Linked DNA regions of Homo sapiens: all the other regions are reported to be linked to region 1. Evidence: microRNA targets listed by miRTarBase, many of them from high-throughput screens and not tested one by one. Region 1 holds a microRNA gene; each other region holds the end of a gene's coding sequence.

Region 1 (7,194 bases):
ACGGCTGGGCAGGGTCAGGAGCCTGCCCCGCCCGCACCCCCACCCACACCCCCACCCCCACCCCCGCCTGCACCCCCTGCCCTCAGACGCTGTGCAGTGAGCGGGGCAGCATGGGAGAGGGGTCTCCAGGTGGCGGGGACCGTTCTGTCTCGAGAGCCTCGCAGACACCGGGCCTTTGAGAAGAGAAGGGGCTGGGCAGGGAAGCAGCTCCTGGAACACCATCCTGGAGACAGAGGCCCTTGTCCCCTGCCTCAGACAAGGCAGCACGTGGGGCCCGGGGGGCTGGGGCTGCTGTCCAGGCCTTCCTATGGGACCACCCAGAGGGAAGGTCCCCCGCAGAGGGGTGGGGGCAGAGGGCCGAGCGGGGCGGGCAGAGGGCCCGTGTCAGCCCCACTCCGACCTAGTCCTCGGCCGTCTGGCCAGGACACTTCGGCCCCCCAGGTGCCCACCCCAGGACCCAAAGCTGGTGGCTGCTGGACTCGGCAGGGCTGGCGGGTGGGGCTCACCCGGGCCCCTGCCCTCCGGCGATGCTGTCCTCAGTGCCCCAGGAGGACGAGGCCCCCCAGCTACTGAGCTTCCCAGCGAGTCCCATGCAACCCTCAGCCGGGCGGCCCCCGGACCCAGCTCGGGCAGCCGTGGCCATCTTACTGGGCAGCATTGGATGGAGTCAGGTCTCTAATACTGCCTGGTAATGATGACGGCGGAGCCCTGCACGCAGCGACCGGCCGACCCCGTCCCGGCCCCCAGGGCCTCCCGCCGAGCCCCACACTCCCCTCCCACACAGCCCGCTCACCGGACCCCACCCCGTCCGGGCCAGATGGCTCTGGGGAGAGTGACGGGGGGACGTGACCTTCGGAAGGGGGCTGGGGCGCCCCCCACCAGCATCTCAGAGACCCCGGAATGCAAGGCCTCCTGCAGCTGCACCCAGGGCGCCCCACAGTGATCTGGGGATTAGGACGCTCAGGTGTCCGGGCCCTGCCCACAGCGCCTGGGCGGGAGCTGCTGTCACACCCAGCAGGTGCGGGCCGAGCAGGACCCAACAGAGGGCTCAGGAGGGCAAGGCCCAACCGGGAGCCACGTGGAACCCAGAGGAAGCCGCCCCACCCAGCTTGGCCACAGCCATCTTCCCTCCTGCCGGACAGGGTGGGCCGGCCACCGAGCAGACCAGTGCCCCCGCCTTGGTCCCGGGTCAGCAGCCCCAGGGTCCCCTTGCCCTGGAGGAAGCAGGGAGGGTGGGCCTGTGTGCAGTCTCAGGGCCCCCAAGCCCCTCTCCGCCAGCCCTGTCCGGTCCCGGCACCACCCCTGGCTGCTCACCGCTCCGGTTCTTCCCTGGGCTTCCACAGCAGCCCCTGCCTGCCTGGCGGGACCCCACGTCCCTCCCGGGCCCCTGTGAGCATCTTACCGGACAGTGCTGGATTTCCCAGCTTGACTCTAACACTGTCTGGTAACGATGTTCAAAGGTGACCCGCCGCTCGCCGGGGACACCACCGAGGCACATCCGGAGCTCCTACTCCAGGGATGGGCTGGGGCGGAGGGCCGAGCGGGGCCAGCAGACGGGTGAGGGCGGAGGGCCGAGCGGGGCCAGCAGACGGGTGAGGGCGGAGGGCCGAGCGGGGCCAGCAGACGGGTGAGGGCGGAGGGCTGAGCGGGCGGCAGAGGGCCTGTGTCAGCTCCGAAGTCCAGCCCCCAGGGGAGGGGCCGGCCTCTGCCGGGGGTGCCCCCGGGGTCACTCACGCCCAGGCTGGGTCTGACACCTTGAGGACCCCTTGGTGCCTCCACAGGTGGCCTGGAGGGCATCCTGCTCCCCCTCCCGGAGCCGCTGTGCCTCCCCCACCCAACCTCCCAGGCTGGGTTTTAGGGTGACCTGGCTCCAGGAAAGGCCATAGGGCTGGGATGCCAGGGCTGGAGAGGGAAGAGCAACAGTGGCCTCTCTCACGTGGTCCGGGCTCCGTGGAGGGTCTGCTGGGGGCGCAGGAAGGACAAGGTGGGTTCAGATTCCCGAGCCCCACCATGCAGGGGAGCGGGGACGCTCTGCGCTTGCCCTCTGAGGGACAAGGGGTCTCATTCCTTCCCCCAGTCAACAAGAACAGGAACTTTGTCCAAAACCCACCAGGCCAGGATGACCCATTGTTTCATCTTTTCCATCTGCAACCAGGGCGCCTGGGACCGCACCCCCACACAAGGCCCCAGCCTGGGGAGGGGGCAGCCACCGGGGAGAGGCTGCCCTTCACTGTTACTCATTAACCCGACCGAGCTTCAGGAAGCCAGCGAGGGGCTGCAGGGAACCTTTGCCAAGAGCAGGGCCTGGGTGACCAGGTGGCTCCCGGGTACCCCCACACAGCCAGGCTGGGCTGGGACCAGGTGCTGGGATGGGGGCTGTCAGGGAAGTGCCTCGGGGGCTCGTTCTGCAGACCCAGGAGGGATCAGGGCAGCTGCAGGAGGTGGCAGGAGCCGCCCCCGGGGCCTTCCCTTCACAGGCCCCGCAGACACCAGCCCAGGACCCGGAGGCCACCCACACCACCGCCGGCCGATGGGCGTCTTACCAGACATGGTTAGACCTGGCCCTCTGTCTAATACTGTCTGGTAAAACCGTCCATCCGCTGCCTGATCACCGTTAGAGGAGAGAGCTGCCTGCCCTGCAGCTCATCAGTGCAAAGCCGCCCGGTCTGGGGCTCTCATGCCCCCCTCACTATGGCCTGTGCCCATCCGCAGCCCATCAGTGCAAAGCCGCCGGGGTCTGGGGCTCTTGTGCCCCACCCTCGCCATGGCCTGTGCCCACCCGGCCTCCTGGGGCCCTCGAGCTGTAGTCCCCGGGCAGATGCTGTGGACCCCGTGCTATCAGCCTGGCCCCTGGGGTCACAGTCACAGATACCCGGAGCCCCACCCCACAGCCCCAGCCCCCTCGCCACCTGGGGAGGCTGAGACAGAAGCAGCTGGGCCCCCCAAAGTGCCTGAGCCCAGGGCACGGAGGAGCACAAATGCCCAGCAGGGACAATGTCACAGCGTCTCAGCGGCCAGGCAGCAGGACGCAGAGACCTCTGGGAGGTTCCCGGGGCCAGCCCTGGCCCTCCTCCTCCAGGGGCCAGCCGTGGGATGCAGACCACACTCTCCCTCCAGGGCCCATCTCTGGGGCTGAGGCGGGCGGGGCCGGTGCCCAGCTGCAAGACCATGGGATAGGGAAGGCAGGTGCTTGGGGCCACGCAGCCCTGCACTGGGGGCCCCTCCACCCCAGGCGGCTCACGAGGTGTCATCTGGAGCTGTCCCCAAGCCGGGATCTGCAGGTTGACCTCCCCCACCCGGGGCTATCTCCAGACCCTCTTTCCTCCCTGGGGAGATGGGGCAGTCCCCCGCAGGGCCAGCTGAAACCACCCCCATGCTGCTGCCGCCTGAGCGACGTGTGTGGGGAAGAACTTGGAGTGCCACCCCCAGAATGTGGCGTCCACCTCACCAGACCGCACGGGTGAGCCCTGGACTGCAAGGTGCATATAACACAAGGTTTGGACACACCTGGAGAGCTCGGGCCAGGCAGGGCCACACCTGTGAGCCTGAGCTCATCCAACACCGCCCGGAGCTCGGGGACCTTCCCCATCCCAGCACCTCCTCACCGCTGTGCCCGTCTGGCCAGTCCCTCCAAGCACCCCTCGGATGAAGTTGCGCCCCACACTGCAGTGGGGCTCACTCTCCACAGCGCCTGCTGCGTTGCACGGGGTGTGACAGGAAGGACCCTGCTGGGGCTGGCGGGGCCGTACCCAGAGCCTCCCTGTGCGGTTTCTCCTCCTCCTCCTCCTCTCCATAAGCACCGGGAACAAAACAGAAAAAAGTCTTTGTATAGTAATAAAGTCTGCAGTTCACGCACCCATGCTTGGACCAGCTCCTTATTTTAACCACACGTGCACAGACCCCCGCCGTGCAAAGGGCCCAGCTGAGGACAGAACCCCAGACACTGCATCCGGCCCCGGAGGCCCCCAAGGTTCCTGGGAGAGGCTCCCTCCCTCCCTTCCCTCCTCTTTCCCTCCCCCTCCTCCTTCCTCTCCTCCATCCCTCCTTCCCCCTCCTCCCTCCTCCTCCTCTCTCCGTCCCTCCCTCCCTCCTTCTTTTGCTCAGGAATCTTCCCTGACTCTCCTGTGGTCAGCTCAGGTCAAGGTTCTGGGGGAAGGGGGAGTCCCTGAGTGGAGACACCTCAGCCTGTGCTGAAGGGAGCTACCGAGGGGGCAGCCGGTGGCCCTGGGGGGCCTCTCTGAGCAGGTGACCAAGAGCGTATGGTGCCGGCCAGCAGGAGCGAGGGCTGCGGACAGGATGGAGGCAGCCAGGCGCCAGCCAGGAGGGCTTCCTGGTCCAGCCACACCTGCCCCGGTGACAGCCACAGGTTGGTGGCAAAGGGGCCACCTCCCTTCCAGTGGCAGGGCCTGGCCTGCCTGGAGACCCCACCCACTGCCCGAGAGGTGCCAGGCCTCCCCCATTCTGCCTGGCCCTGGGGGCTGCACCCACCTGGACACGCGGGCCGGGCACACCCACGGCCCAAGGTCCTGCTCCCACCTGCCCTGCGCAGGAACCTTGCTGGGGCTACAGGTATCCGTGGCTGCCACACCACCCAGATTTTGGGATTAAGGGGCAGAGTTTTCAAGTTTGAACTCAGGAAAGCTGTGAGGGACGAGGTAGTGCCTGGCTGGGGAGCCTGGGGGCTTCTGAGGGCGGTGGGGAGTCCTCAGGCCTGTGTGGGGCCCCAGGGAGGGGAGGCTGCAGGGGTTGGGGGACCTGCCCGCTGCACCCCCTCTCCCCCCACACAAGGAAACCCGTCCTCCGAGGTGTGTGTCCAGATCACATCCTCCAAAGGCCGGTGCGCCACAAAGATGAACACGGGGCTCTCCCTCCCAGCCCAGGGGCAAGGACCCTGCCTTGCTCTGTTCCCGGAAGGGCCAGTTCTGGAGAGGAGCTGGGCGAGTCCTTCCCATCCCCATCAGCTCCTGTCAGGCCACCTGCCTCAGCCTCAGGGAGGAGGGGACACACGTAGGCCCCTTCCCAGAGTCAGAGCTTCCGAACCCGGATCTGCTGCTCCCAGCCTGGAGAGCCACAGCAGCCACCGAAGGAACCCCCCACCCGTCACCCCCACCAAGTGGGCCCTGCTCCCCGAAGGCCCAGCCACTCAGCCCAGGACCTGCCCCAGCCCCACCTGCCACCTGACCTGAGGCTCCCAGAGGGCAGAGGGGCCTCCTGGGTCTGCTCCGCACCAGGGTCCAGCGGGACCATCTCAAAGCTTGAGCACCAGGCGCAAGGTGGGAGTGCGGGGAGGGGACGAGGACACTGTTCCCAGCTGGACAGAACCAGGAGGACGGTGGGAGACGCCCCCCACCGCCCCGCTTCCGAGAGCTCTCTCTTCCTTCCAGGGACTCCCCAGGGACAGCCGGGGCCCCTTCTTCCCCCACAGCTCAGGCCCCAGGGACACAGAGCGGGGAACCCCCAGGCTGCCGCCCCGGCGTGGGTCGGGGAGGCGGCTCCGGAGCGGGCACCACACTCTCGAAAGGGTGGCTTCTCCTCCCGGCTGCTGAAAAACCACACAGGCAGGCACAACAACAGACGCTTACGCCCGCATCTGGAGGCCAGAACTCCAAAGCCACAGGGCAGGCAGGGCTGCACCCCTCTGGGGGCTCCAGGAGAGGACCCTGTCTGCCTCCCCAGCCCCTGCCAGCTCAGGCATCAGTGGCTGTGGCCGTGTCACCCATCTCTGCCCCCCAGTCCCACGGCGTCTCCCCCACGTCTGCGTCTCCTCTCTCCACCTCCCTCTCAGGGGGGCAGAGGCCATTGATTCAGGGCCTGCCCTGGGTGATGTCACTAGAGATCCTGACGTAACCCCACCTGCAAAGCCCCTTCTTCTAAATAAGGTCACATTCGAGGTTTCAGGGCTATGATGTGGTTGTCTTTTGGGGGCACCACCAGCCCCCTGCAAGGGGACCCTAAGCACAGAGGCCCTCGTGACCCACGCAAAGCTCTGAAGGACACGGATGGGTAGGGGACACGTGGCTGGAGGCTCAGAGTTTGAGGCAGAGGGGATCAGACCGTGCCATGGGTCATGCCAGGAGCCCAGGACTCCCAGACCTCGTATCATTAGGTGTTTTAAAGAGAAGGCGAGGGCAGGCCAGGCGCAGTGACTCACGCCTGTAATCCCAGCACTTTGGGAGGCCGAGGCGGGCGGATCACCTGAGGTCAGGAGTTCAAGAGCAGCCTGGCCAACATGATGAAACCCTCTAAAATTAATAATAAATTAATAATAAAATAATTATAATAATATAGAAAATAATATATAAAATAATAAATATATAAAATATAAAACAAAATAAAAATAAAAAATAAAATTAATATTAAAAATACAAAAATTAGCTGGGCACTGTGGTGGGCACCTGTAATCCCAGCTACTCGGGAGGCTGAGGCAGGAGAATTGCTTGATCCTGGGAGGCGGAGGTTGCAGTGAGCCGAGACCGTACCATTGCACTCCAGCCTGGGCAAAAGAGTGAGACTCCGTATTTTGAAAAAAAAAAAAGAGAGAATGTGAGGGTTAAACAAAGACACACAGAGATGGAGAAAGGGCAGCCTTACATCAACACGGGTACATTGCAAACACCTGCAGAGGTGGGGGACCAGCTGGATGCCAGAGCCCACTGCCGCCTACGGGCTGGGGTGCCTATAGGTATGGGTGGGAGCGGCCCGGGCCACACGGCTTCAGGATGAGGCCGTTTGTTTGGCCCTTGTTCCCGCAGAAGGTAATCGTGATGTTCCTCGGTGTTTTTCCCCGCAGAGTGTTCAAGTCAGGTGTCGGGCAGGCTGTTCCTCACGGCCCAAACCCCTGCGGAATGCTTCACTTTGGCCGAGGTCTGTGACACAGCGAGGGGCTTACAGAAAGGTGCAGTTTGGACCGATAGATGTGAGTCCCCCTCTGGGGGGCACTCACTTTGTGGAGCCCCCGGTTCCTGTTTGCAGAGGGGGGCACAGTGGCACCTCGTCCGCTGTGGAGTGAGAACAGGGACCCGACCACGTGAAGCACAGAGAATGCTCAGGGATCGGCAGCCGTGTATCCAGCCAACATCACCAGGGTGCACGCAGAGCCTGGCCCGGGCCAGGTCCTGGGGTGCTGAGCATGGGTGGGGCCTGAGAGACGGCTCAGGGACCATCCTGGGAGGGCCGGGCGGAGGGGCAGCAACT
Region 2 (7,194 bases), not on the chromosome of region 1:
TATTTCATAGCAATGATTAGATTTGTTCCATTTTATCTCACATTACCCTAGTACCTGCAGATAGGAGTTACACCAATGCAAAATTTGTTCTCTTCTTGGGGAAGTGAGAGGGAATAGTGGTTAAGATAAGGTCTCTAGAATTTCTCTGCCTGAGTTCAAATTCAGGTTCAGTGACTCCTTCACTATGGGACCTTGAGCACATCACTTAATATCTCTGTAGCTCACTCTCCTTATCTTTATAACAGCATAATAATACTGCCTGCTTGGTAGGCTTCTTGGGAAGATTAAATTAGTTCATACGAGTTAATGTATTAATGTAAAACACTTATGACATAGCGATTACTTGTGTAAGTTTTATAAACACTAAAGGGAATATTTAAGGTAATGAAAGTTGTTTCTAAAAATGGCATAGGGTATCTAAGGAGGTGGTGAGTTCAATACCCACTGTGGGGCTCACACATATATTCCTTACAACCCTGGGAATATCATATGCAGCCAGATAATATATTTAAATATCAATCAATTTTTTTCCTCCCAATATTTCACTCTTACCTCCCAACCCCAGCACTCCCAAACAACTTCATAATTTCTGCTCCCCTGGGACGACTTTACTTTGGGATATTCTCTATTTCAGGGTATGTCAAAAGCAGAAGGAAGAGAGAGAAGGGAACCCCTTCCTGGGTTTTGTGGTTCCATAGCTTAGGGCTTGAAGGGAATAAAAAGGATTCAGGGTACAGAAGAAACTCAAAAAAGATGCAAACCTCCAGGCCTGGGACAAGGTCAGGATGCTCTAGGTTAAGTGGAGTGAAAGGATCCTCAAATAGGATCCTGTGTTTCCCCTCTAGCAAAGTTCCAAGAGGGGGCGGGACCACTAGATAGATGAGAGTTTGAGGGCAGGGATGAGTTTTGGTATAAGGCAGACTTAAAGGTCTTCTTGACCTTTAAGTTGTTCCCTGGAGCAACAGTGGCAGGAGGTAGAAGAGCATCGGATGAGAATGAGGCAACTTTCTTGGACCAAAAAGGAAAGGCCAAAGAGAGGGGCTCCCTCAGCAGATATCACGGAAAGTGGACACCAAGCATTCAATGTCTCCTTTCCACAATGTGTACCATGTAAGTCCCCCAGAATTTAGACATAATCACAGGGACAGGAGGAATCCAAAATTGACGGTAAGGCCAGCTTCATGAGTGTGTGACCTATGCGGTCACATAGGACTCTGTCCTTCAGAAGAGTCCAGTGCTTGGTTCAGTGCTTGGTTCAATGCTTTGCTTTTGCCATCTCATGATTTTGAATAATTTTTTAACAAGGGGTTTGCATTTCCATTTTGCACTGGGCCCTGAAATTTATGTATTAATTCCTGCTTGACTTCTATTAACTTTTCTTAATCACAGTAGAAAGAGGAATTCAAATAGAAATTAAGTTGATTAGAGAAAAATAAAGTTATATTTCTGTATATCTGAGTTTGCAGTTTGATTTCTGTACTAATACATGCAAGCCAAGACCAGATGAGTAAAGTCAAACAAGTTCTGACCATGAAAATGAGTAGTGAGATTTGACTTGGATGCAGAGGGTATGTTGTGCAGGGTAAAGATAAAATTGGAAAATGTGGTTGGAGGTGTGAGGGTGGTCCATCTTGAAGACCTCTACAATGGAGAATATCAAGACAGTCTGGCATATTTGGAATTACTTGAGGCCCTGAAATACACAGCCATGTTTGAAGCCTCCATATATAATACTAAAACTAGCCTTGTAACAAGAGAACACTTTAAAATGGAGAAGACAGCTAAGGGGCAGTACTTTGATCCCAGATAAACCTGACACTCAATCCTACCTCTGCTGCATCAGCTGGAGAGCATCAAATTTTCAATTCTCATTTATAGAAGAGGAAAGGCTCATATCACTTACTTTTGTGGGTTACTGTGAGGATAAAATGGAAAGATGTCCATATAGTGTTGCGTAGAGTAGAGACTCCCAAACTCACTGTATAAAACTCATAGAGAACTATTTACAAGTGAGGTTATCCTTTTCCTGAGTTTGAATATCTACTATATGACAGGCTACATCTTTAGGGACCATACCTAGAATATTTTGTTGTTCAATAAATGGATATACAGTAAACACACATTGCAGGAAAATGAGCCAGTGTGGGCACAAAACTCTGGGAATCTAGTCTAGTCCAGTGGGAGTGGGGTTTGGGGCTCTAACAGTACTGGTTCAACCAGTAACCAACTTATTGGTTCACTCTTGAAAAGAGCAAAATAAAAATCCCATGGAACTATACCATCATTTTTGTGATAGGTAGGTAGGCTAACCTTACCAAGTTCATTGCTACTTTTGATCTGCTAAAACATGTGAATTTGGTTCACTAGAGAAATAATACTTCCTCTGATACCACCATGGGGCTTTGCTTTCTCCCTTTAATGGCATTTGAACAAGGCCCTTCTGGTCCTACAATAAATATTATACAGGAATACTTTTATACATGAGGAAATATATCTTTTACCATGACAATCCAGGCTTTTCTATGTTAGGAAAAAAAAAGTCAGGTTAACATTCAGTTTTTCAATGCAGACAAGTGATCACTAGGGAGGGAACCAAGATCAGAAAGTTCATTTTAACAGGGACCTGAACTTGGCCTCAAACTTAAAACATGGTCTCAGAGGTACAAGCGTAGTGTGTTAAATGTTTTGCCTTTTGAATATTTGATTTCAGCACAGAAGCTACAATCTAGCCTTATCCTAATGGTTTTCTGTCACTGCTGCCAACAGGAAAAGAGTTGTGACCTGCCTAATACAATGAAAGCAGCTTTTATTCACTTCCAGTGATGCACTAGAAAATAGCTCGATAATGCCAAGAAAGCATGTAAAACAAGGGAACCTCTACTACATTTCCAAATCAACCTATTTATATTTTCTATTTGAGGTTTATCTGTACCTTATAACACAGAATTCGTTTCTTTGGGGGCTTTCCAACTTGAGTGAAATTGGTGGGTCTGAGCAAAGAGCAGAATAAGGAAGAAAAACCACGTGCAAAATGCTTTGCCTTCTGCCATTATCAATGATAAGAGTGGGTTGAAAAGCGATGCTCTGAATTAAAAGTTTTCTGTGTTCAGTTGAGAGGGCTAGGGGTGAGAACCCACTGAGAACACTAAGCAGAATGGACCTTTCATTTCTTCTTTAGCTGACTCGCAGATGAAGTGAGCTTTGTGAGAGGGAATGTTTGCATTCAGTATAAATGAAAAAGTGTCTGGTCTATATCCAAAAGCAACATACAGGTGTTGAAATTCTAGCAGTAATACTAAAAGTAATAAGTTAATGAACTCTGAAATGAAATTATTCCATTTGTCAAAATCTGTTTGCCAGATTTTAAAATCTAACAGGGCATGCAGCATATGGAACATTAAAGTGTGGATACCCATTGTAGGCATAAAGAGTGCTACTGAGAAGCATGAGTTTGCCTGTTAAAGGATATAGAATTGGCCTAAAAAAAATCACAATTATTTATGTGACATGCTAACATTTTTGTGCCATTAAAATGTGTTGACAATAATGCCGTTATTTAACTTTTAATAATCCATGTGTCTATTTTTCTGGATTGCTTAGTGGCTGCTTAACACAGACTCCTGTTAGAGCAATCTGGTAATTCAAGTGGCCTCCCTTAAGTCACCTTCAGGTGGGGGAAATTAATACCTTGTGCAAATATTGCAAAGTCAACTCAGAAAGAAAACACATAGTAAATATGTAGATACAGTTTTTAATGTATCACAATGAGCAACAAACATACTTGATGAACTATTTCCAGAAGAATAAGTTCAAATACCATCTACAATAAACATCATTTCAACTATGACAACAGGTCTGTGACAAAATAAAAAAAAGTTTTCAAAACCATGTTATTTACCGTAATACGGTGCATTTGAGACTTCAAACATTACAGTAACAAAAACTAATGAGACTACTCTCTATATATAAAACATCAATAACATTTTTGGTTTAGTTTATTTAAAGTTATAGCCATAGGGGCTTTTATTAAAACCTCAGGGTGCATTTCCTATGTAACCCAGGCGTTGAGAGTACATGTTGTGTAGACAATGATTGCGCTGTGATAATCCCTTTGATATCCAGGAAAAAACAATTCTCATTCTCAACCTTTGGAGGCTGTCCTTTTATTTCTCACCCTAACAACGTCCATCCAGTTAAAGTTTTTTTTCTTTTTTTTTTCTTTTTTTGGCTGCTGTGCAGTTGTAAAAGTTTATGTCGACACACTGTCGGAATAATCATTTGTAAAACAGTCCTTTGTTTTGTGAAAAGCGTTCTGTTCCATGCTAACACACTGTTGCACATCGTGTTAACTGCCAGGACAGATCGATCTCACAATGCTGCTGCTTAACATTCATGAAAAAGGCAAAAGCAATTTTCTGAAGCCTTTGGATTCAGGACATTAGCTCACTATAGCGGCAGGATTGCACCTTAGGAGGCCATGTTGTCTCTTACGAAACACAATCAAAAAAGTGTCTTCAGGATTAAAATAAATGTTAAAATACTAAAAAAAAAAAAAATCCAAATTAAAGACATTAAAAAAGTTCACATAAAATGTATAGAATAAAGATTGCTGTGATCATCATCCGAAACAAAAACTGTACAATAATAAAATGTAAAATGAAATGTGTCTTGATTTGATCATTAAAACAGTTTGAAGCATGACTTGAGTTAAACTGTCAAACAGTTGCATTACATGCTACTTGTTCATCTCGGAAGAGAAATATCAAAAGCAATACATTTTGCATTTCTTCATATTAATAAATTTGTACCATGCACAGCCAACTACAAATATGTACAACAGCTTAGCTTTCTTTGTTCACAAGCCTTTAACTTTCTTACAAATAACCTTCTGTTACTTTGGAATGAATCACATTGTTTTACTATATCAAACACAAAAGTGATTCGTAAAATACCCTTTGACAGCTTTCACATTCTTTAAGTTCCACAGCAACAGAAAAACAGCAAAGCATAGCAATTTATAAATCAATTCACTGGGTGGTGGAAGTTGAAATTCATGGCAAGCAAAACAAAAATGTTAACACAGTAGCAGCAAATGTTGATAAAGATAATACTTTTAATGCATATATGATAAAACAAAACAGGTTAAAAAAAGTATGTAACAGAACAATACAACACAAGTGCCCAGAGTATGAATGGAAGTACAATAACCTATCCACTAAATGGCAGTGTATAGGGATATCACTGAATTCAGTCCTACGTGCGCAGGGCTAACCTCTTTATACAAAACAAATTTTTAGTCCCCTTTTTATTTTTTAAAGCAGCTTCTTTGCTTTCCCGAGAAGCAAATATACCTTTTCATAATTTTTGTTCAACTTGTACTTAAACAGTTTCAAGTATACAGTACTACTTTCATTTATGCACCAATTGTTAAATAGGTCTTTGGGTTGTTAGGAGTTAAACTTCTAACAAATGCAGACCAAACTGTTGCTGCACTACACACAAAGAAAGGAAAAAAAAGGTATCTTATTAAATTTCACATGGTCTACAAAATCATAAGTGCACTAGAGTTCAGACACAAGCAAGTACCTTGACAGTATAGCATTAAATTCACAAATGAAAAATGTCCTGTTCACATAATCCTCAGAGTCTATCAAAACTAGAATTATTACCTCTTTCAGAAAAAAAGAATGACGTCAGAGGTAAAAGTGAGAAGGTAGAGTTGGCACAGATTATTAGTATATTCTACAAGAAAAGGGTGACACTGGTATAAATATAGCTTGTGGCAATACAAACTGCAATACACAGGGCAGACACATGATTCCACTGTTCCAGATTCCCTCTGCGGTAAAACTGTACTATCCTGCAGCGTGAGCTCAAGGATCTGTGTGTTGTCCAGTAAGGGTTATAAAGTCTCTTTGTACACTAAACACACCTAGAAAATGCTTTCTAATAAAGATTGACGTTTGGGGAAAAGTCACAGTTTTACCAGGCTTCTTGCTGCTTTTAACAAATGAGAAATGTTATGTTCTGACCTGAGAATTTAAAGCTACTGAATTACACCTAACTAAACTAAGAGAAATTCTCTTTGAAACATCTGGATCATCCTCCCATACAGTACATGCTAGCATTTGGAAATCAATCCAGCTGAGGTGCAATTTGCTTTCTTGAGAGTTTTTGGCTTGAAACAAGTTCCAAAAGAACTTGTGAGATTTTTTTTTCCTTTTCCATATTTTAGCATATAGTACAAGCGCATTCAACCATCTGCATCAGTTCTGTCCATTACATACCATCCTATATTGCCAGCATATCAATATGGGAAAAACAATCCTGAGTCAATCATTTGGTACTGTAATTTTTGGGTTAGAGAAGCTTTGGAACTGCAGTTAAAGTCTTATTTTTTTTTTATTTTTTTATTTTTTATTTTTTTAAGCACGGGATCCTGTCTTCACTCCTACACACTGAACATATCCATTCGGATGCTATTGAAATTACCATCTAGGCCAGAAGCAGGCTTAGCCTTCACTTCCAAAGAATTATCTAAGTCTTCTAGCTTCTGGCTCAGCTCACTGTCAGACTCATCTGAACAACTTTCTGTGGGTAGTGAGGTTTGAACCCCTGAGGTGCTGCACAAACTTGAGGTAACCGTTGAAGGCAAGGAAAGGGAAGGAGGAGAAGAAGGGGGAGAAGCAGCTCTCCTGGCAGACGCTTGGAAAAGGATATTAGGCCAGGACTTCATGGAGAAGCAAGAAAGATGAGGATAGGTGTTATTAGAAGAAGCTGCAGACTGCGAGGTAGATGTGGTGTTAGGATTAGGGGAGCAGACTGAGTGAGGTAATAATCTAACATGCTCTTTGGCATTTCTCATTGCTTGTTTGATTGTTTTCTCTTTGTGCAAGCTTGACTGGAGGTGTTGGCTAAGTGCTTCATTCCCACTGATAGCCACATCACAGGCAAGACACTGATATTTGCTGACTGGGACACGAAGCACTGTCTCTTGTGGGTCAATCAAAGGCTGACCGAAATAACAGAAGGACTTTTGATGATTTACTGCGGCGTCTTCATCAGTAAACATCATCTGGCACTTTCTGCATATAAACTCATACTTGACGAATGGAACAACGTAAGTGTCTGAAAAGTCTGCACTTTTGGATTCTAACTGGGGTTCTTCTTTTGTGCTTTCTGTAGCAGTACTTT
Region 3 (7,194 bases), not on the chromosome of region 1:
GAAACCTTTAAGAGTACATTTTAAAAGGACAGCCTGCAGCAATGATTTAATCCTGGGAAATCCCAGTGCTCTGAACTCCCCACTTTCCAAGCCTGAGGGCGAAATCCTTTCCCAACCAGTGTCTGACCTTCCCTATCCTCAGCCAGGACCCCTGCTTGGCATGCCTGTGATGTCATGAATTAGCTCTCAGTCTCCAGTGACTTGGACCGGGGAGACAGATAGGTGTGACCATGAATTGAGAGTCGGTGTTAGGGAGATCTTAGCTCTCTTGGTGCCACAGGACTCTGGCATCCTGATGCTTGGCTTTGGAAACAAGAGAGAATGACTGAAGAAAGAGGGAGGGGTGACTTTAAAAGGAGACCTTTACTACTCAAAAGGTAATCTTTGGGCCAGCAGCAACAACACCGTCTGGGAGATTGTTAGAAATTCAGAATCTCAGGCCCCAACCTAGACCTTGCGAATCAGAATCTGAATTTTAACGAGATCCCTGGGTAATTGTTATGGCAATAAAGGTTAGAAGTACCGACTCACAATTGTGCCTATTGTGGTGAAGATGGAGTAACTTCCCTGAATGACATTAAAAAGTTGCGTAGTTTGCTTGTTGATACTCCGTTGTTTTGGTAGTGGGGTAAGAGATGCATGGCAGCATCAAGAGAAGAGGGTAAGGGTCCTCACCCGCAGTCTTTCCAATATACCATTTCAGCCCAGTTCCCAGGGGAGACGGCCACATTCCTGCAGAAGGGGGTTCCCGGGGTCCGGGGAAATAAGCCTACCCTAAGCGAGTTTCGGAGACCCAGGGGACACTGGAGTATCCATGTGGAACCCCAGATTCAGCAACAGGCTGAGAAGGTCACTGTCGGAACAAGATGCACAGCCAAATGCCCTCTCCCCGTGCCCAAACACAACCCAACTCTCTCTCTGGCCAAGCTGGACGCCGTTAATGCTCTGTTTCTATTCTGTTGTCACCCTAGGATAGTCATTGCAACGTGACGCCCTTGTCCTTTCAGGTTCAGGCGCAGCTGCAGCTGGACAGCGCTGTGGCGCACGCGCACCACCACCTGCATCCGCACCTGGCCGCGCACGCGCCCTACATGATGTTCCCAGCACCGCCCTTCGGACTGCCGCTCGCCACGCTGGCCGCGGATTCGGCTTCCGCCGCCTCGGTAGTGGCGGCCGCAGCAGCCGCCAAGACCACCAGCAAGAACTCCAGCATCGCCGATCTCAGACTGAAAGCCAAAAAGCACGCCGCAGCCCTGGGTCTGTGACGCCAACGCCAGCACCAATGTCGCGCCTGTCCCGCGGCACTCAGCCTGCACGCCCTCCGCGCCCCGCTGCTTCTCCGTTACCCCTTTGAGACCTCGGGAGCCGGCCCTCTTCCCGCCTCACTGACCATCCCTCGTCCCCTATCGCATCTTGGACTCGGAAAGCCAGACTCCACGCAGGACCAGGGATCTCACGAGGCACGCAGGCTCCGTGGCTCCTGCCCGTTTTCCTACTCGAGGGCCTAGAATTGGGTTTTGTAGGAGCGGGTTTGGGGGAGTCTGGAGAGAGACTGGACAGGGGAGTGCTGGAACCGCGGAGTTTGGCTCACCGCAAAGCTGCAACGATGGACTCTTGCATAGAAAAAAAAATCTTGTTAACAATGAAAAAATGAGCAAACAAAAAAATCGAAAGACAAACGGGAGAGAAAAAGAGGAAGGGAACTTATTTCTTAACTGCTATTTGGCAGAAGCTGAAATTGGAGAACCAAGGAGCAAAAACAAATTTTAAAATTAAAGTATTTTATACATTTAAAAATATGGAAAAACAACCCAGACGATTCTCGAGAGACTGGGGGGAGTTACCAACTTAAATGTGTGTTTTTAAAAATGCGCTAAGAAGGCAAAGCAGAAAGAAGAGGTATACTTATTTAAAAAACTAAGATGAAAAAAGTGCGCAGCTGGGAAGTTCACAGGTTTTGAAACTGACCTTTTTCTGCGAAGTTCACGTTAACACGAGAAATTTGATGAGAGAGGCGGGCCTCCTTTTACGTTGAATCAGATGCTTTGAGTTTAAACCCACCATGTATGGAAGAGCAAGAAAAGAGAAAATATTAAAACGAGGAGAGAGAAAAATAATATTAACACAAAAAAATGCCACAGACAATGATTTCTCTGAGAAATTATTATGGCAAAACTGTCTGGACTGCTGACAGTAAATTCCGGTTTGCATGTTACTTGTATTCCATTGATGGTGTGTCTCCTCCCACCCCCTTATCTCCCATGCACTCACTCCATTTTCATCTTCACTATGAAAAACAATACCAAAAGTATCTGGAAATTGATATATATATATCCATATATATATATCATATATTTGCCATATATATATATATATATATATATATATATATATATATATATTTGCCCTGTCTTTGATCCTGGGGAACAAAAGAAAAAAGTCAGAAAGGGAAAAAATTACACTCATTGTCCTAAGAAGACAGAGGTGGGCAGAATATGTGGGGAAAGGAAAAAGAAAACAAGACCACCAAATGAAATAATGAAGGTACAGCGCCTCGCTGTGCCAGACACAGTAGGCGCTCAATCAGTATTAGTTCCCACCATTCCCCTTTTCTTGTGTTCCTTCTTGTTGGTTTCCTGAAGTCCTATTTGAAGACAGTGGTTTATTTCCCCCTCTCTATCCCGTCAAATTCACCTTAAATAACACCCAGCTAGATACAGGCACTAGGTTTGTGTAAGATATGTTGATACACACGAACAAAGTTTATTTTGACTATAATGTGTGGACTGACTTTCAACATTTGCATTTTATCTCACAAAGGTGTATCTATTCAAGTAACCTTTTTTTTTTGTTTGTTTGTTTCTTTTTTGTTTTTTTTTTTCTTTTGGTTGTTTGTTTCAATTCATGTAGCTATTTAAACTGGGATACCTTGGACTAAGCCAGTCTGTATCCCAATTCGCTAGCAAGCCTAAGTTTGTGGGGTTTTGTTTTTGTTTTTGTTTTACCTTCTAATTTACAAGAAAGAGGAAAAGCTCTTCTAACTGAACTTTGGTATGCGGTTGAGCTTTGTAACTATTTGTTCTCCATGAAAACAAAATTATTTATATTTGACATATTTTTTTCTAGTGTATTAAGTTATTTTAAACAAAAGATGTTATCTCATGACGTGTTGTCAGTACAAAATGTGTCGCCTCCAATTCTGTTAAACCTTTTAAATAAGTGCCAAGTTATTAATTGAAGACACTTTGCGATCAATTGAATGAAAATATCGTTTCATTTGATGGGGTTCGAGTCATCTTTGTTCCTGTTACTATTAAAATATCCGGGATAGTCTTTCCCTTTTGATTAATGCGTATCACTCTCTCGAATATACCAACTTGGAAAAGCGCTTGCCTCTGCTCTTACGTGCCGCAGTCAAGGGGCAGTAAGAAGGGTGGCTCTGTGGCTGTCGTTAGCGCTGAGCGCATTTCCGCCGGCCCCCTCCATTTTATCCACCCAGCATAGAAACAGGGTTATACCAAATTAATGAAAGAACAGATAAGAAGTAAAATAACATAGGATAGAGTAACTTCCTTCCCCAAGATGGACTCTCGTTATTCGTTTTGCTATAATTCCAGTCTTTATCTGGGGACACTTTTGGGAGGAAGGAAGGAGGGATCCTGCGGAGCGAAATCAACCTGGGTTTGGTATGGCATAATCGACAATCAGTCCCAGTTCGTTGACCCTCTCTGGAGCGGGGCAGGTGCTGACTTCGGAGCGGGAAAAGAGCCGCAAAGGCGGGCAGGCCAGGGCACTGTGGAGGGAGGATTCCCCATCTGACACTCCTGTTTAGGGTTGGCTGAAGCAGCTTCTTCATTGGTTAAATTTAGAAGGTGGAAGCCAGAATCGGGTTTAGGAAAAGCCTGGCCTTGAAAATAATGAGGAGCTCTCTCTCCCCATGTCGTGGCCCCCTTCTGGAAGAAATCCCACTAGTAAAGCCCAAAGGTGCTGCCTGTGTGGGGATAGTTGGAGACTTTGAAGACTCGGCCCTGACCATGTCCAAGGCAGGAACTTTCCTTCCCGCGCGGGCTCTTGTGATGACGGGACCTTCCGCAAAGACTGAAAGAGTCCTGAGCGTCCCCTGGGACCCCCCACCCTCGTGCTGGAGGGTGCGTAAAACCCCTGCCAAAGCCCCACATCCTCCAGCAGTGTTCCCCACCACCCCCACTTGGCCCTCTCCCAGGTCTTAGCTCGTATTCAAAGCTGTTCCTCAGCATAGACGTGGGCGATAGGTTTCTTTCTTTTAACTTTCAAAGACCACTGAACAGGATTTGGGCCGTATTCAGTGCGCAGGCCTTGCGGGTCTCCTGGTTGATGAACGTCGGTAGTTTTTAATAATAAACATCTGCCTGCGGGCATGGTACGCCCTGAAGCAGCCAGGCCATCCGCCGTGGTCCTGTGGCCTCCAGCGAGCTCCAGTCGGCGCCGGGGCCGGGGGTCCTAACAGGCAGGCTCCAAGCTCCAAACCCTAATCCTAACCCAGATCCCAACACGGGTTCGGACCCTGGAGACCCTGGAGCAGGGGAGATGGTGGCTCCCTCTCGGGGCCAGTCTGCCCCAAGCAGCGGAGCGCGGGGGAAGCCCGAGGTCAAAGGAGGCGGTGCGTCCAGGCCCTGCTGGCGGAGGCGCCGGGTATCGGTACAGAGGCTCAGTGACGCGGCGTGGGTGGGTCGGGAATGTCCCGTGCGATAGGAGCCAGGTGGGTTCGGCGCGGAGACCCGCGGGAGTCGGGCCGCGGCGGGAGCGCGGTAGGCGGAGAGGCCCGCGGAGGCAGCCAGGTCCGGCGAGAAAGGCCAAAATTTCTTGGCCCCATTCGCAGTGCTCCACTCGGGCACGGCCTGTGGGACCAGTGCATCCGGGGAGCTCGCGGCGCCCTTGCCTCCTCTTGCGTCTGCTCCCCCAAGACTAACGGAGGACAGAGGCCGCTTTCCTTGGCCCTGTGGAGTCTCGCCCTTCGGGTCCAGACTCCCGCAAGGCCTGCTCTCCCGGAATGCCAGTGTCCAAACTCTGGGGCAGGCGCCTCGGTGTGTGAACAAGAGTTCCAAACTCGTAGTTCCCCGAACCATCCCAAGAAGGGGTCTGAGGAATTCACTTTAAATTTAAATAAGGCCCAACATGCTTGTAGTTTGGGTCGAAACTCAATAATCCTAATATAATTAATAAAGGACACCCCCATCCTCTGCTCCCCAAATCTTTTGGGCATGCAAAACCTTCCCGAGTTGCAAAATCAATGACTGGGAAAAACTGAGTTAAAAGAGATTGTTTAAGACATCATTAGTGTTAAGGACCCTATGATACAAGAGACACAGTAAGATAGTAAGATCGGTGCCTTTGCTTGGAGCTGAACTGATGTACATCTATTTTGAGTTTTTCCCCAGATTTATAACTTTTTTGGGTCCTCAGATGGTAATACTTTAGTATAATGCAATGCTCAAATTTCGGAACTATTTTGATTTCTGAAAAATGCCTCTTTGGCTTCAGCGACATAGGATCCTGTTTTTTCTTCACAAATCAGTTTACATCATAAATTGCAAACATTTGCAATAAGATCTCAAGATTGTTTATTTTACATAACCTCAAGCACTTGACTATGTTAAACACCAGTACAGAAAATCTGTGAAATCAGTTTAATGTGTGTGAGGGAATTAAAGGATCACTCATTTTCATCACATAAACAAAGCATTTAAGATTGTTTTGATTGTCAGTCTCCCAATTTTTAGTCATACAACTGACTATTAATTTAAGAGTCATTCTGTGTAAAAATAATTACTGAGGTTATATCCTGCTTTAATTAAATATTTCTGGGCAGAAGAAAATGGTATTGTACATTGGGAAGTGGGGGATTGTTTTTAATATTATATTATTTTAGTTCAAACGGAAATAAAAGTCTGCAAATTCCAACGGGGAAAAAAGGCCTGAAATGGTTTCTTAATATGCCATTAAAACAGTTAGCCAAAATACATTAAAGCAATATCACAAACCCAGAAATAATAAATATGTCATTCTAATGAGAATGTTAACTTACAGATAATTTATTCAAGGTAGTTTTTACATTTCACATGGAATGTCTTATTATGACCCGCTTGATTACTGTGATGCTTGTTCTTCAAAATCTAATTTATATAGGCCTGCAATATACATAATTCATAACTCCTGTTGATATACGTATACACACCCCAAATTTTAAATCTTTACAGTATGTTTGGATGTTTACTAGCATGTTTTCAAGATGACGAAAATAAAAACATAAAAAGTGTTAAACATCATATTGAAAGCAAGTGCTTGCCCTGCCCTATGCCTGAAGGCAAAGTAGCTGAAAATGAAAAAATTAAAAAGGATTAGATAATTTTCAAGCTCAGGCATTGAGTGAGCACTGAAATATTTCAGACAAAAAAAAATCTTGTATAAGAAATCTGAAAATCCCAAGAAAGACTTACAGATGTGAGTGTATAACACTTCTGATGCCTAGACAATTTTTTTTTTGGTGTCTAATTCATGAAACAAAAAATCCTCGAGTCTCGGGGTATTTTGTTTTGGGTATTTTACATGTCAGTCAAGGTAACCATTACATATGCCTTCGGTGCAGGAAAGTTTAGTATAATACGCGGAGTTCTATTGGCATGAGGAAAGGTTTTAGAATATAATCAAATACATCAAATAGGGAGGAGTAAACATGCTTCTTTTCTTGCTGAACAACTCCTCATATGTCCTGAGTAAGGATCTTTGTAGACTCTTATTCAAGCAGAATAGTGTATGTTTAAGAGCACACACTGTGGAGCTATGCTTCACTGCTGGATTCAAATTTCACTGCTACTGTTTACCAGTCCTCTGATTTTGGACAAGTTAATCTCTCTGTCCCTCAGTTTCCTTATCTGTAAAATGTGGATAAAAATAGTGTCTATCTCATGGAATGGTTAGGAGGATTAAATGAGTTAATATTTGTAAAACCCTTAGAACAATGCCTTGCATATGTATACTAAGTACTAAATAATAATTACTTTTATTAAAAGGCCAATAGACATTGACCTTTGTAATAAAAACCTTAAAAGAAAAAAACAATAAAGTGTTGCAAGACAAGAAAAGCTTTCTCTTGTGGGCAAGAAGAAAACATTGCCTGTTAGTTTGTGATTCTGGCTAATTGCTTAGCCTGTGTGA

Evidence for each region. The annotated mature microRNA hsa-miR-429 reads UAAUACUGUCUGGUAAAACCGU and lies in region 1 at 2,572-2,593, shown strand. An mRNA with a match to its seed (bases 2 to 7 or 8) in the 3' UTR can be bound and repressed. Matches are read on the target gene's strand: a 7mer-m8 pairs with bases 2 to 8, a 7mer-A1 pairs with bases 2 to 7 and ends in A, and an 8mer does both.
Region 2: the mRNA of ZFHX4 is a reported target of hsa-miR-429. Seed matches in the 3' UTR shown: 7mer-A1 at 5,106-5,112.
Region 3: the mRNA of SHOX2 is a reported target of hsa-miR-429. Seed matches in the 3' UTR shown: 8mer at 2,585-2,592.

What each region holds. Positions count from the first base shown.
Region 1 is chr1:1,166,484-1,173,677 of GRCh38, forward strand. It overlaps MIR429 (microRNA 429), which reads left to right and starts at 2,522; the gene lies at 2,522-2,604. MIR200BHG (MIR200B, MIR200A and MIR429 host gene) reads left to right here. Exons shown (of 2, transcript XR_007065348.1): 2 at 1-3,855. MIR200B (microRNA 200b) reads left to right here and starts at 621; the gene lies at 621-715. It overlaps MIR200A (microRNA 200a), which reads left to right and starts at 1,380; the gene lies at 1,380-1,469. It also overlaps TTLL10-AS1. RefSeq lists an enhancer at 4,323-4,890.
Region 2 is chr8:76,863,823-76,871,016 of GRCh38, reverse strand. It overlaps ZFHX4 (zinc finger homeobox 4), which reads right to left. Exons shown (of 11, transcript NM_024721.5): 11 at 3,736-7,194. The coding sequence ends at 6,452. Among named protein-coding and RNA genes, the nearest start is that of MIR3149, 99 kb to the left of the region's middle.
Region 3 is chr3:158,092,098-158,099,291 of GRCh38, reverse strand. It overlaps SHOX2 (SHOX homeobox 2), which reads left to right. Exons shown (of 5, transcript NM_001163678.2): 5 at 1,008-3,387. The coding sequence ends at 1,265. Among named protein-coding and RNA genes, the nearest start is that of SHOX2, 11 kb to the left of the region's middle. RefSeq lists an enhancer at 1,125-1,294.